Linked DNA regions of Homo sapiens: all the other regions are linked to region 3. The links come from fine-mapping of genetic effects on gene expression. A gene starts in region 3. Each other region holds a variant in brackets. All regions are shown on one strand. Distances are from middle to middle.

Region 1 (4,240 bases), 75 kb after region 3:
AAAGTTGGTGAATGAACAAACAAACATTTAATTGTACCCCATAATGTGGACACATTGCTGTCTACATTTTACAGATGGGGAAACTAGACTCAAAGAAGAGGTGGATTGACTAGCCCAATGTCATACAGCTGCAGCGGGACAGAACCAGGATTTTAGCCCAGTGTCTGTGGCCTCTGAGCCCTGTCTCAGCCAGTAGACACTCCCACCTCCCCAGAATCTAGGATGGACAGGAATGGGAGGGGGCCCAAAAAGGTGGGTAGGATTTTACCCTGGGGATTGAGGGGTGAGGCCAAGGAGGGGGTGAACCATGAGGGTCTGAGAGGGCCAGGGGCAGGTCGGGGACTTCAGTGAGGGTCAGGACAGGGAACCCTTGCAAGACAGTCTCTGAGGAGAGCACCCCCGGCACCAGCCACTCCCAAAGACCAGCCGCCTCCAGGCTTCTTGTGCTGGCTTTGGTTCCTGGCACGATTTCTGTTTCCCAGAGGAGCTCAGGCCTGGCCCGGCTTCCCAGGGTGGAGAAACACATGGTGAGTGAGTGTGTGTGCGCGCGTGTGTATGTGTGTGTGTGTCCAGCCTTGCTGTTTGCGTTGTCGTCACGTCTTCTTAATCAGCCTATTTCTGGGAGCGATGACTTCATCTCCTGTGATTCTCGACACAGCCATTGTCAGGCGTCCATGGAAAGATTGGGCCTGGCAGTGTCCATATTCCCCTAACGAGCCAGGTTGGGAGAGCCAATTGGCGGGCCCTGGTCTGACCTGGCTCGGGGGCTTATGGTCAGGTCTATCTCCAAGAGACTCCACTGCCCAGGGTCACCCTTAGATTTGGCCTCTTTGACCCTGGGGTACCCAGTGCAGCAAATTCCAGCCATTGTTTCCTGTGTGCTTCCTCTGTGTACGCTCTGCTGTGGGCAGGGGGTAGGGGACAGTCACGCCAATCTCTGCCCTCAAGGGCTCCTGCTGTCTGACAATGCAGATGAGTCAACAGACCTCACCTTAGAGGGTCTGTGCGTGAACAGAGAAGGGAGTGAGGACTCTACCAGCGCTCAAGGAAGGCTCCACTGAGTTGGTGGTTGGGCCACAGGGTGAAGGTGAAGGTTCCCTTGAGGGAGGGAAAGGGCTTTTGGGCATGCCAGGTAGTTGGGTATCACTGGGCACGGGGCGGCTATGTGTTGGGCCTGGAGAGTGCAAGGAATAGAGGGGAAGGTAGCAGGAAGGCAGCAGGGTATGGACTTGATCCTGAAAGTAGCTGGGAAGGATTTTAAGAAGAGATGGGACCTAGATAGATCAGCGATTTTAGAAGCAAGTCCTTGGCTGTGTGTAAGGGTAGGTGTGGAAAGGTGTGACACTGGGAAATATATACAGTATTTGGTTTCTTGGCACACGACTCCTGAAATCCTTAGATTCTTTAAAGTGATGTCTACTTATTTGCTAATGAGTTGACTGATGGCTGGCAGCCCCTAGGTGGCTTCAGAAAGGGGTCACAGAAAAGACCAAGGCAGGATTAGAGGGTTAGAACTTTCAGCCCACCCCACAGCCCCTGGGGCAGGGAGAGAGGCTGAAGGTTAAGTTAGTCGCCAATGGCTAGTGCTTTAATCAATCATGCCTATGAAATGAAGCTTTTATAAAAACCCAAAAGGACAAAGCTTGGGGAGCTTTCAGATAGCTGAATGCTTGGAGGTTCCTGGAGGGTTCCTAGGGAGGGCATGGAAGCTCCACGCCCCTGCCCACATACCTCTCCCTATGCATCTTTTCATTGGTATCCCTTTATAATAAACTGGCAAACAGAAGTAAATATTTCCCTGAGTTCTGTGAGCTGTTGCAGCAAATTAATCAAACCCAAAGAGGGGTTTATGGGAAACCCAGTTGATAGCCAGTCGGTGGGAAGCACTGGTAAACCAACACGGGGCTTGCAATTGGCATCTGAAGGATGGGGGGATAGTCTTGGGGACTGAGCCCTCAACCTGTGGATCTGATGCTATCTCCAGGTAGATAATGTCAAAATGGAACAAAATTAGAAGACATCTGGGCTGGTGTCTGCTGCCCAACTAATCGCCTGCTTGGTGTGTGGGGACAACCCCTCCCGCCCCCACCACATCTGGTGTTGGAAGTATTCTGCTTTGTGAGAGTATAAAAGGAAAGGGGAGAAACTGAGTTGGGTTTTTTCTACAGAAGGTGTCTGGGACAGGGAGGAAGAAGCTGGCGACTGAGGGCTCAGCCCTGTATTCCCCTTTATCTTCAAGGGGAAGGGTCTCTTTCCCCACCCTACTCCCTCATACTGTACTTCAGGAACTGGTGCCAAGGCCAGCTGAGCTCAGCCAACTGCCAGGAGCTCAGTTCCCCACCCTGGAATGCTGGTGGGCTGGGGATGGGAGGTGGAGAGGAGTAGGGATGTGGGGTGGTCTCTCAAAAATATTGTGCTGGACT[T/TA]ACTGCAGGCTTATGTATAGCTTTGCCTGGAGGCAGGGGGACAGTTGAATGAGTGCCAGCAGGATAAAGCACTCTGAGGGGTGATACCTTGTGTCCTGCTCTTGGCCTGGACACTCGTTACCCCCTCACCTCCATTCCCCATCTGGAGATCCCTCAAGCCCCACCTTGAAGCAGAGACACTGATGTAACAGTTCAGGCTCCTGAGCTGCACTGCCCGCGGTGAAGCTGCTTCCCAGCGTTGTGGCCTCTAGCAGGTGACTTGCTCTGTAGTGAGTTTTAGTTTCCCTCTCTGTCAAATGGGGACAAAAAGTGTAACCATTTCCTAAGATACTTGTGAGGATTAACATATGTTTTAAGAGGGAGGCTTAGCAGAGTGCCTACACATAGAGGCGCCAGCGTGCCTTAGCATGGCAGTGGGGGTGTGGCAAGGGTGAGGGCAACTGTCTTCACCATAATTGCCAAGGCTCCCTTAGGATTCAAAAAGCCAGGGATCAGAGGAGTGAGGAGGTGTGATGGGAAGGCCCAACAGGAGAGCCTGTTTGGCGGAGCAAGAAAGAGACTGGGCCCTCCTCTCCACCACTCTGTGACCTCATCTCTCTGAGCCTCAATTTCTTGGCCCAAAGAAATGGTGAGAAAAGGAATGTTGGGGGCCCCCACTGCAGGGGCAGGTGAGGAGCTAATGTATCTGTTAACACTTGTGTATTTCCTTTTCCCTCAAAGCCGAGAATCAGCTGCTTGCCTCTCTCTTGGGCAGGCATCCAGCAGGGAAATGCTTTGAAGGAAGCCTTCCCAAGCTGAGGGTAGCCAGGCTCTCCCACCTCCATCTCCTTCTCCCACACAGGGCTGTCTGCCTTCTCCCTTGTCCCTGAGCCACCACCCATCATCCTTTGCATGCCTTCATTGTTCCAGCTGCTCAGTGTTGTCTTTTTTTGTAAGAAAACAGTCCAGTTCAGCAAACATTTCATAAGCACCTGTTGTCTGCCTGGGTCTTTTTTGGGCTCAGGGCATACAGGGGATGGTTAAAGTACCAACCCAGCTATTATAGGGGAGAATATTATGGAATTGTTTTGAAAGATCTGAATGCAAAAGCAGCGATCCCAGGGCAGGAGGCCCTGGGTTCTAGGCCCTTGTTCTCCTTTCTTCCCTTGGGACCTTGGGCAACTCATGGTACTTCTCTGAATCTCAGTTTCTTCAACTCAAAACCCAGGTCAGTCTGTTGATGCCCCTGGTTCTAAGAGGCATCCTGTGATCAGTTTTGGAGTAACACCCTGTGGGCTCATCAGTTAGAGAGGTCTGTGGGAACTGCAGTTTCAGGCCATAGTGAGAACAGCAGACCCCAGAGGGAGGAGTCTGATCCAAGTTTGAGTCCCGTTCCACTGCAGCTTTTGCTAGTTGCGTGAATTTGGGCCCGTTCCTTAACTCAAAGACTGGGTTTTCTCAGATGTAAGGTAGGCATTGTGATATGCCTGCCAATAGGGAACTCACGGGTCTTATTAATGCTACTGAGATCCTGTTCTCAGATACAGGGCCTGCTCCATGCCAAGAATACATACCCAACCCTCCAGAGCTCCTTGTATCAGAGAGGGGCATTAGTGCCCAACTTAAGAGGAGCCAGTGAGGGTGGGGAGGCCTGCAGCTGGCCCAGGAGCTCTAGAATGACTGCAGGTGGGCTGGGCAGGGGCTTCTTGATTTCAACATGCACTAGTGTGGAATTCTATCTAGCTTTATGAAGAAAATGTTTGCTAATGTTATTAATAGTGTAAATGAGATTTGGGGAGGGGGGGACAGCCAGGGGAAGGGGTTATTTAAACACACTT
Region 2 (4,240 bases), 150 kb after region 3:
ATTACAGGCACCTGCCACCACACCTGGCTAATTTTTGTATTTTTAGTAGAGACGGGGTTTCACCGTGTTGGCCAGGCTGGTCTCGAACTCCTGACCTCATGATCCACCCGCCTTAGCCTCCCAAAATGCTGGGATTACAGGCGTGAGCCACCACGCCCAGCCTAGAAGTTTTTAAAAAGCCTTTTGCTTTGGAAATCATTTCTGACTTACAGCTAAGTTGCTAAAATCAATGGTACCAGGAATACCGTGTGCCTTTTACCTGTAATCTATTAATATTTTTACCCCCTTAGCTTTATCATTCTCAGTCTCCCTCTTTCCGCACACACATGCACACACATACACACACAATTTATTTTCTGAACTGCCTGAAGTTAAGTTACATACATCATAGCCCTTTATCTAACCTAAACACTTCAGTAGTATATTTTCACTAAGATTAGGAATATTCTCTTACATAATCAACTTCAGTCAATTTAACATTGGTATACATTTTTATCTACTCTCAACATTCACATTCCAATTTTCTGAGTCGAACCAATAATGTCCTTTTTCAGTAATTTTCCCCTGTAGTACAGGAGGCAGCCTAGGGGCAGGGGCTGCAGTTAGCTGTCATATCTCTTTAGCCTCTTTTAATCTGGAACATTTTCATAGCCTTTTGTGATCTTTTATGGCATTGACATTTGAGAAGAATACGACCAAGCACACCCACCTTTTTCAAAAATAGAAAAGCATTTGTCTGATGTTTCCTTGGGACTAGTTTTTGGTTCTTCATTCTTAGCCAAAATCCTGCATAGAGCGTATTGAGTCCTTCTCAGAGGAGCACATCTGGAGGCACAAGACAGCCATCTGTCCTTCCTTGGTGATGTTAATTTTGATCACTCGATCAAGGCGTTGTCCAATTTCTTCACTGTATAATTACTGGAGTTTTTTGATCTTCTTTGCAACTAATAAGCAGTCTGTGGGGAGACACTTTGAGACCATGAAAACATTCTGTTCCTCATCAGAATGTTCCCCTAGATTTAGCAACCATGAATGATTCTTAATTGATCCCATCTTTACTAGGATAGTTGCAAAAGATGATTTTCCAACTCTAACAATCTCTCCACTTCGCCGGTTGACTCTCAGAATTCTCTCGTCAGCATAGGTCCTCCTTCTCCCCCACATATTGATAAATCTATTTACTATTGGTATAGATTCAGAAATTTCCATTTTTAAGGGTTTATATTTCATTACTTTATTATTTTGGTGCTCAAATAGTCCTAGATTTTGCCACCGGCAGCCCCTTTAAGCTGCTGACATTTCCCCCAAAAGTGCTTTTGATCATTCCTTATTTTCTGGTGTAACAAAACGTCCCAGGCTCACAATGTACCTACCCTGCCCAAGCTCTCAAATTAGTCATTTCTCCGAGAAACCCTGGGTAATGGTATTAAGAACCAAGATCTGCGAGCTAGTAGAATGGCTTTTCTTCTTGACCTTGTCAGCAGACAGAACTAGGAAATAAATACATATATGTGCATATACACATCCACGTGCACACAAAAGTGCATATACACATTCTACAAATCATGGGTTTGCATCTGTACCTCCAATTCCATGGAATCTGAAGTTTAACAGGCACCCCCGGGAAGCAAGCTCCTGCATCAGGCAAATCAGGAAGAACCTGCAAATGCTCATCAGAGGAGAAAGCAACCCACAGGAGGGAGAGGTGGGGCTGCTCCCTGCTCCCTGCACCGAGCAGGGCACCCTACAGGAATAGATGAGCCCGCTAACCTGCAACACAGGGCAATGGTGAGTCTTGCTTTGCTCCCCATCAGAGCATGTCGGAGATGCAGAACCCTCTTAATGGGTCTTAAATAAATGCTGGAGTGGTTCAAGTGATGTTTCCTCAATAAACAGGAGTGTGCTGCTAGGAGAAAGGAACGGGCTGAAAACAAGAACTTGGAAGGAAAGAATGTCATTGCTGATGGTGGACAACAGAATGTGTGTGCTGAAAAGTCAAATCAGTGATCCATTCTAGAACATCGGCTTGAAGCATCCAAGAATAAGGCAAAAGAGAAATAATTGGAAATTAAAGGGACAATAAATAAATGGGAATATCTCATTCATGGTAATAATTCAAGAAAAGCAAATAAAAATAACAAATATCTATATTTTTTGGTCCAGGAATGTTTAGGTAATAGAAACACAAAAGGAATCAACCTAAATAGAGAAAAATATATGAGATTTGTTAAAGAACATATAGGGGCTGGGGTTCCCTCTGCCACTGCATGTCACAT[T/C]GCATCGCAAACTTTTTTTGGGGGTGGTGGGTATCCATCACTTCAAGCATTTCTCACTTATTTGTGTTACAAACATTCCAATTATACTCTTTTAGTTTAGGGTCTTTTGTTTTGTTTTGTTTTGTTTTGTTTTGTTTTGTTTTAAGACGGAATCCTGCTCTGTCACCCAGGAGTGCAGTGGCGCAATCTCGGTTCACTGCAGCTTTTGCCTCCCAGCTTCCAGAGATTCTTCTGCCTCAGCCTCCTGAGTAGCTAGGAGTACAGGCACATGCCACCACGCCCGGCTAATTTTAGTATTTTTAGTAGAGACAGGGTTTCACCATGTTGGCCAGGCTGATCTCGAACTCCTGACCTCAGGTGATCCATCTACCTCGGCCTCCCCAAGTGCTAGGATTACAGGTGTGAGCCACTGCACCAGGCCTAGTTATTTTTAAATGTACAAAAAGTTACTGTCAACTGTGGTCACCCTGTTACGCTATCAAATATTAGGTCTTATTCATTCTTTCTAACTATATTTTTGTACCCATTAATTATCCCCACTTGCCCCGTCCACCCTCACCCTCAACACCCTTCCCAGCCTCTGCTAATCGTCATTCTACTTTTTATCTTCATGAGTTCAACTGTTTTAACTCTTAGCTCCCACAAATGAGTGAGAACATGCAAAGTTTGTCTTTCCGTGCCTGGCTTATTTCATTTAACATAATGACCTCCAGTTCCATCAATGTTGTTGCAAATGACAGGATCTCATTCTTTTTTATGGCTGAATAGTATTCCATTGTGTGTATGTACCACATTTTCTTTATCCATTCATCTGCTGATGGGCACTTAGATTGATTCCAAATCCTGGCTATTGTGAATAGCCATGTTGCAATAAACATGGGAGGGCAGATATTGCTTTGATATACCTGTTTCCTTTCTTTTGGGTACGTACCCAGCAGTGGGATTGCTGCATCGTATGATAGTTCTACTTTTAGCTTTCTGAGGACCCTCCTTACTGTTCTCCATACTGGTTGTACTAATTTACATTCCTACCAACAGTGTATGAGGGTTCCCTTTTCTCTCCACATCCTTGCCAGCATTTGTTATTTCCTGTCTTTTGGATGAAGGCCATTTAAACTGGGGTGAGATTATATATCATTGCAGTTTTGATTTGTATTTCTCTGATGGTATTTTATTTGATTTGTAGCCATTGTAAATCGGATTACTGGTGGTATTTTCTTTGATTTGTAGCTGTTGTAAATGGGATTGCTTTCTTGATTTCTTTATGAGGCTGTTCTGTTGACATACAGAAATGCTACTTATTTTTGTATGTTGATTTTGTATCCTGCAATGTTACTGAATTTGTTTATCAGTTCTAATAGTTTTTTGAACTGCTTAGTTTTTTTCAAATATACAATCATATAATCTGTAAACAAGGATAATGTGACTTTTTCCTTTCCAGTTTGGATGCTCTTTATTTCTTTCTCTTGTCTTATTGCTCTGGCTAGGATTTCCAGTGCTATGTTGAATAACAATGGTGACAGTGGACATCCTTGTCTTGTTCCAGATCTTACAGGAAAGGCTTTCAGTTTTTCCTCATTCAGTATGATACTAGCTGTGGGTCTGTCATATATGACTTCTATTGTGTTGGAGTATGTTCCCAGTTTTTTGAGAGTTTTTATCATGAAAGGATGTTGAATTTATTAAATGATTTCTCAGCATCAATTGAAATGATTATATGGTTTTTGTCCTTCATTCTGAAGATACAATATATTACATTGATTTACATATGTTGAACCATCCTTATATTCCTGGGATTGTAAATGTAGATTTATTTATGCTCTCTGTTATTAGGCTGTGGGGCTCAAATTTTATTCAACCTAGTATAATTATCACCTAACATGATGCTTGGCCTGTGGTAAGCTCAATAAAGGAAAGGCCATATTTCTTAACCACAGAGCAATGAAAGTGGGAATTAATAACAA
Region 3 (4,240 bases):
CCCAGGATGGCTTTGAATGCTGCCCAACACAAATTCATAAACTTTCTTAAAGCATGATGAGGTTTTTTTGTGTGTGTGGTTTTTTTGTTTGTTTGTTTGTTTTAGCTCATCAGCTATGGTTAGTGTGAGTATATTTTATGTGTGGCCTGACAATTCTTCTTCTTCCAGTGTGGCCCAGGGAAGCCAAAAGATTGGGCACCCCTGGCCTAACCCAAAGGAGGCTAAGGGTGTCCTCTTGGGCACCCTGGTTTTCCATCTTCCTGTGGGATTGGCCAGTATTCAGGGAAGAGGGGACCAGGGCAGCTGATAGCTCTGGACTCCTCAGACTGAGTTTGCTGGAGTAACACCCCTCCTGCCCCTCCCCCCTGGTCAGGGAAGGCGCCTGGCTTCCAGCTGTGAGACAGGCTCCGCAGGACTAGGGACCCTCCCCGCTGGCTGAGAGCGCTAGGGAGGGGGCTTCCCCTGTGAGGTGCAAAACCCGGCCTGGATTTCTGCCCAGACGGCCCCGCCCACTCCAGGGCCCCACCTTCCCCACTGTTCTGGAGGAAGATCCCCTAGCCGGCCTCAGGCACTTGCGGTGACTCACACCCCCCACCCCTAAGTCTGAATGTTGAGAGCCCCAGGCTAAGACCACTTGCCTCTGCCACTTTCCATGTGACTGAGGCAAGACCTCCTTGCCAAGGCCTCAGTTTCCCCCTCTGTACTTCAAAGGAGGCAGCTCAGGCAGGTGTCTTAATAATTTAAACGACGAATATTGCTAAAGAGATAAGGGGCGGGGAGAGAGAGAGATCACTGTGGGCCATGGTTAGGGAAGGGTGGAGGAGCTGGGTCCTGAAAGGGTGGACTTTGGTCGGGTGGAGAAAATAGCCAAGAAGGCAGTCCCTGCTGGCAGCACAGCAAAGAGAAGTGAGAATTAGGGGGAGCAGAGGTGAGGCTGGAGGGGACTTTGGTTGGGGCAAGATTATTTGGGGTCCAAATAACAAGGATGTTTAGACGTATTGCCATTGTGCTCTGGGGAGCCACGGAAAGCTCTTGAGCTGAGGAGTGACTTGGAGAAAGTTTTTCAGCCAATGCAATAGAGGGAGTTGGTACCTTTCCTTCTGCCACCCTGAGTTTCTGGTGCCTACGGTAGGGTAGGGATTGTTCTGCCCTGCCTTCAGTGCTTTGAGTGCTTGAAACAGACACCGTAATTTTAATTACATAAAAATGATACGTGTATCAGACGGGACAACCTTTAAAACGTAAAGAAGAGGCAAGTATCCTGCATCACAGGGGAGTCTTTCAACCTGGCTGGGCCAGGGCCTGCGGAGCAGTGAGGGTCGTTTCTCAGCCCAGCGAGCCTGGGGCAGGAACGGACCCTAATTGAAGGTGACCGTCCCCAAGCATGCGTCCTACCCCGGGCTCCGGAGAGCGCACAAGCAGGTGTGCACCGTCTACCCGCGCTGGCGGGATTGGGTGCCTGGTGCGCCCTCAGGTCGACGGTCGAACCCTCGGGGGCGGGGGTGGGAGCCAGAACCCTCGGGACGACCCGTCTGGGGTCCCGGGGAAACTCCGGGCCGCCTCGCCCCGCCGATTCCAGGCCGGGATTTCTCCCGCACTGACTTTCCGGGCCGGTGCCAGCCCGGCCTCCGGGTCCCCAGCCCCCGCCGCGGGGCCGGCTGCTCGGGGAGCGGGAGGGGGCAGGAGGCGGAGGAGGAGTTTGAGCGACTTTGTGGGGCAGCCAGGGCCTCGGCGGCCGCTCGGGCGAGCGCGGGAGAACGCGTGGGCGCCCGCCGGGCTGTCCGGAGCGGCCGATGGGGCCCGTGTGAGCGCGCCCAGGCCCGGCCCGGTGCCCGGCGGGCGGCAGCATGTCCGCGGGCGGCAGCGCCAGGAAGAGCACCGGGAGGTCCTCCTACTACTACCGGCTGCTGAGGCGGCCCCGGCTGCAGCGACAGAGGAGCCGCTCCCGCAGCCGGACCCGGCCTGCCAGGGGTAGGCGCCACCCCGACCCCTGACCCCTAGACCCTCCTAAGGCCACTAAGCCACCTGATGCCCTGGGATGCTAGGGACCGGGATCCTCCTTCCAGCCATTTGCCGGGGGTTTCCTCATCCGCCCCTTCCTGAGTCTGCCGGACCCCCCATTCCCCCAGCTTCTGCTTAGTCCTCCTCTCGCCGGGGGAAGCCGAGGCTCTAGGGTCTCCTCTTAAGCCAGGGACAGGGAGAGGGGAGCCTGGAATCTTTCTCCGCATCTCAGATCAGACCTCCTACCCCACTGTGCCTCAGTTTACTCAGCAGCCGGGCAATAAAGTAACCCAGGGTGGATCTGAGCTTTCCCACACCTTGCCTTCCCAGCCCAGGCCGCGGACTTCTTTCTTCCCTTTCCAGGAACTTAACGGGCTCCCCACCTCTTGGGTGCTAGGACAAGTGGGTGGACCTCAGGGAAGGAACCGTGACCCCTCGAGCGGGTGGGCGCCAGCTCCTTTGCAAAGTTTCTCTCCATCAAGCTCAGGAGGCAGGACGAGACGGAGGGGGAGGTGCGAGCAGCATTTTCTTTTTCCAGTAACAGGATCCTCGGCTGGAAATGCGTGTGATCCCGGGGGCTGCGTTTGGGCGGGTGGTGGCCGGGACTTCCTTCCCTGGCTGAGTAGGAGGGAGGGAAGCCCCTGGGAGGAGGAGGCCTTCAAAGGGGCTCTGGGGAGGCTGGAGTCCTAGGCAGAGGTTCAGGCCCACCGAGGGTGCCCGTGGGGTGGAAGGGAGGAGAAAGACGGCGCCTTAGCAGGGACCTGGGCCGAGTTGACACCATCAGGTTATCTTGAAAGTGGGAAGCCGGGCCCTGTGCCAACAAATGCCATGCAGGGAATCTGGTAGACCAAGAGGGGCCACATTCCCACCCTGCAGGCTGCCGTTGTGTGACCTGGGCTGAGCTGCCTCTGAACTTCAGTTTTCTTGTCGGTGTGAGGGTAAATGAAGCAGGCAGGTAGTGTTCGGTTGCTTCCACCAGAATGGGGAAGACTTTTCCCACAGTCAGGTCTGAGTAGCACTGTGCAGTCCAGGGCTTCCTCAGGAAGTAGTGAGTTCCCTGTGCACAGAAGGGTTCAAGCTGAGGCTAAGTGTGTGCACAGGTGTGTGCTGGTAGTTCAGTCCTCAAGGGTCTCTCAAAGCCTGCAATCCCCCCACTCCTGCCTTTCCTGAAGTCTTAGTAAGTACAGAATTAACAGTACTAAGTTACTTAGTAAGTACAGAATTAACAGTACTAAGCCTTTAGTACTCCTTGGAGGGAGTACTAAGCCTTTAGTACTCCTTGGAGGGAGTACTAAGCCTTTAGTACTCCTTGGAGGGAGTACTAAGCCTTTAGTACTCCTTGGAGGGAGTACTAAAGACCTGGGGAAGGCTTTATCTCAGTGGTTCAGGTTTTGGTTCTTCTATCTCTGTCCTTCTATTTAATTCTGTACTTGCTAAGACCTGGAGAAAGGCTTAGTACTGTTAATTCTGTACTTACTCCCTTCCCCTGGACTTGGTCTGGGAGACCGGGAATCTGGGCTCAAGCTTTGTGACTTTGGGCAAGTCATTTCCCCTTTCTGAGCTTAGTTTTCCTGGTTGTAAAATGGACCTGCCGTATGTGGAGGATTCAGTGAAGAAACTGAGAAATGGGAGCTTTGAAAATGCCCAGTACTGTTCAGACCACCCTGGGGCCTCTCCTTCTGCACCCACCTCACGTCACCTCACCCACCCGCCCCTCCTTTGCCTCAGAAATGCCCTGTGTGACCTTTTCCTCTTCTCACCTCAGCCCAGTTCCATCCCTGACTGTAATGGGAGTCTCGCTCCTGTTCAGCTGACCTCCTGCTCAGCTGACCAGGCAGGGGATAATCAATGTGTCAGGGGCTGTCACCTGAGCCCCAGCTCCCAGACCCCACATACACAGGATCACTGCTTGTGTCCCAGCTTGAAGGAGCTCACGGCCTGCAGAGCGGGGAGGAGACTGTCTCTGAACAGAAGTTATATCTGGGGAGATCAGGGAGAGCTTCACAGAGGAGGTGACATTTGGATGGGATCTCACAAAATGGATAGGGTTTCCCTTCGCAGAGGGAGTAATTGAGTCAGATCTGGGTTCAAGTCTCAGCTGTGCACACAACTATTCTACAGCCAGTTACCTCTCCAAGCCTCAGTGACCTTGTGTGGTCAATGGGGCTAGCAGTGACAGGGTCATGTGAGGGCCAGAAGCCAGTGCCTGGGACTAAGGCTGCAGCTGAGGGTGAGCTAC

The links. PIP is the estimated chance that this variant, and not a neighbour inherited with it, causes the effect.
Region 1: its variant is the best candidate, but not a certain one, in a credible set for the expression of DAB2IP in whole blood (TOPMed, PIP 0.84).
Region 2: its variant is the best candidate, but not a certain one, in a credible set for the expression of DAB2IP in tibial nerve (GTEx, PIP 0.54).

What each region holds. Positions count from the first base shown.
Region 1 is chr9:121,724,620-121,728,859 of GRCh38, forward strand. All of the region lies in intron 3 of DAB2IP (DAB2 interacting protein), which reads left to right. Among named protein-coding and RNA genes, the nearest start is that of DAB2IP, 75 kb to the left of the region's middle. The variant T/TA (reference allele first, on the strand shown) is at 2,424.
Region 2 is chr9:121,801,265-121,805,504 of GRCh38, forward strand. No RefSeq gene overlaps it. Among named protein-coding and RNA genes, the nearest start is that of DAB2IP, 150 kb to the left of the region's middle. The variant T/C (reference allele first, on the strand shown) is at 2,277.
Region 3 is chr9:121,649,929-121,654,168 of GRCh38, forward strand. DAB2IP (DAB2 interacting protein) reads left to right here and starts at 1,706. Exons shown (of 16, transcript NM_001395010.1): 1 at 1,706-1,971. The coding sequence starts at 1,848. RefSeq lists an enhancer at 1-283.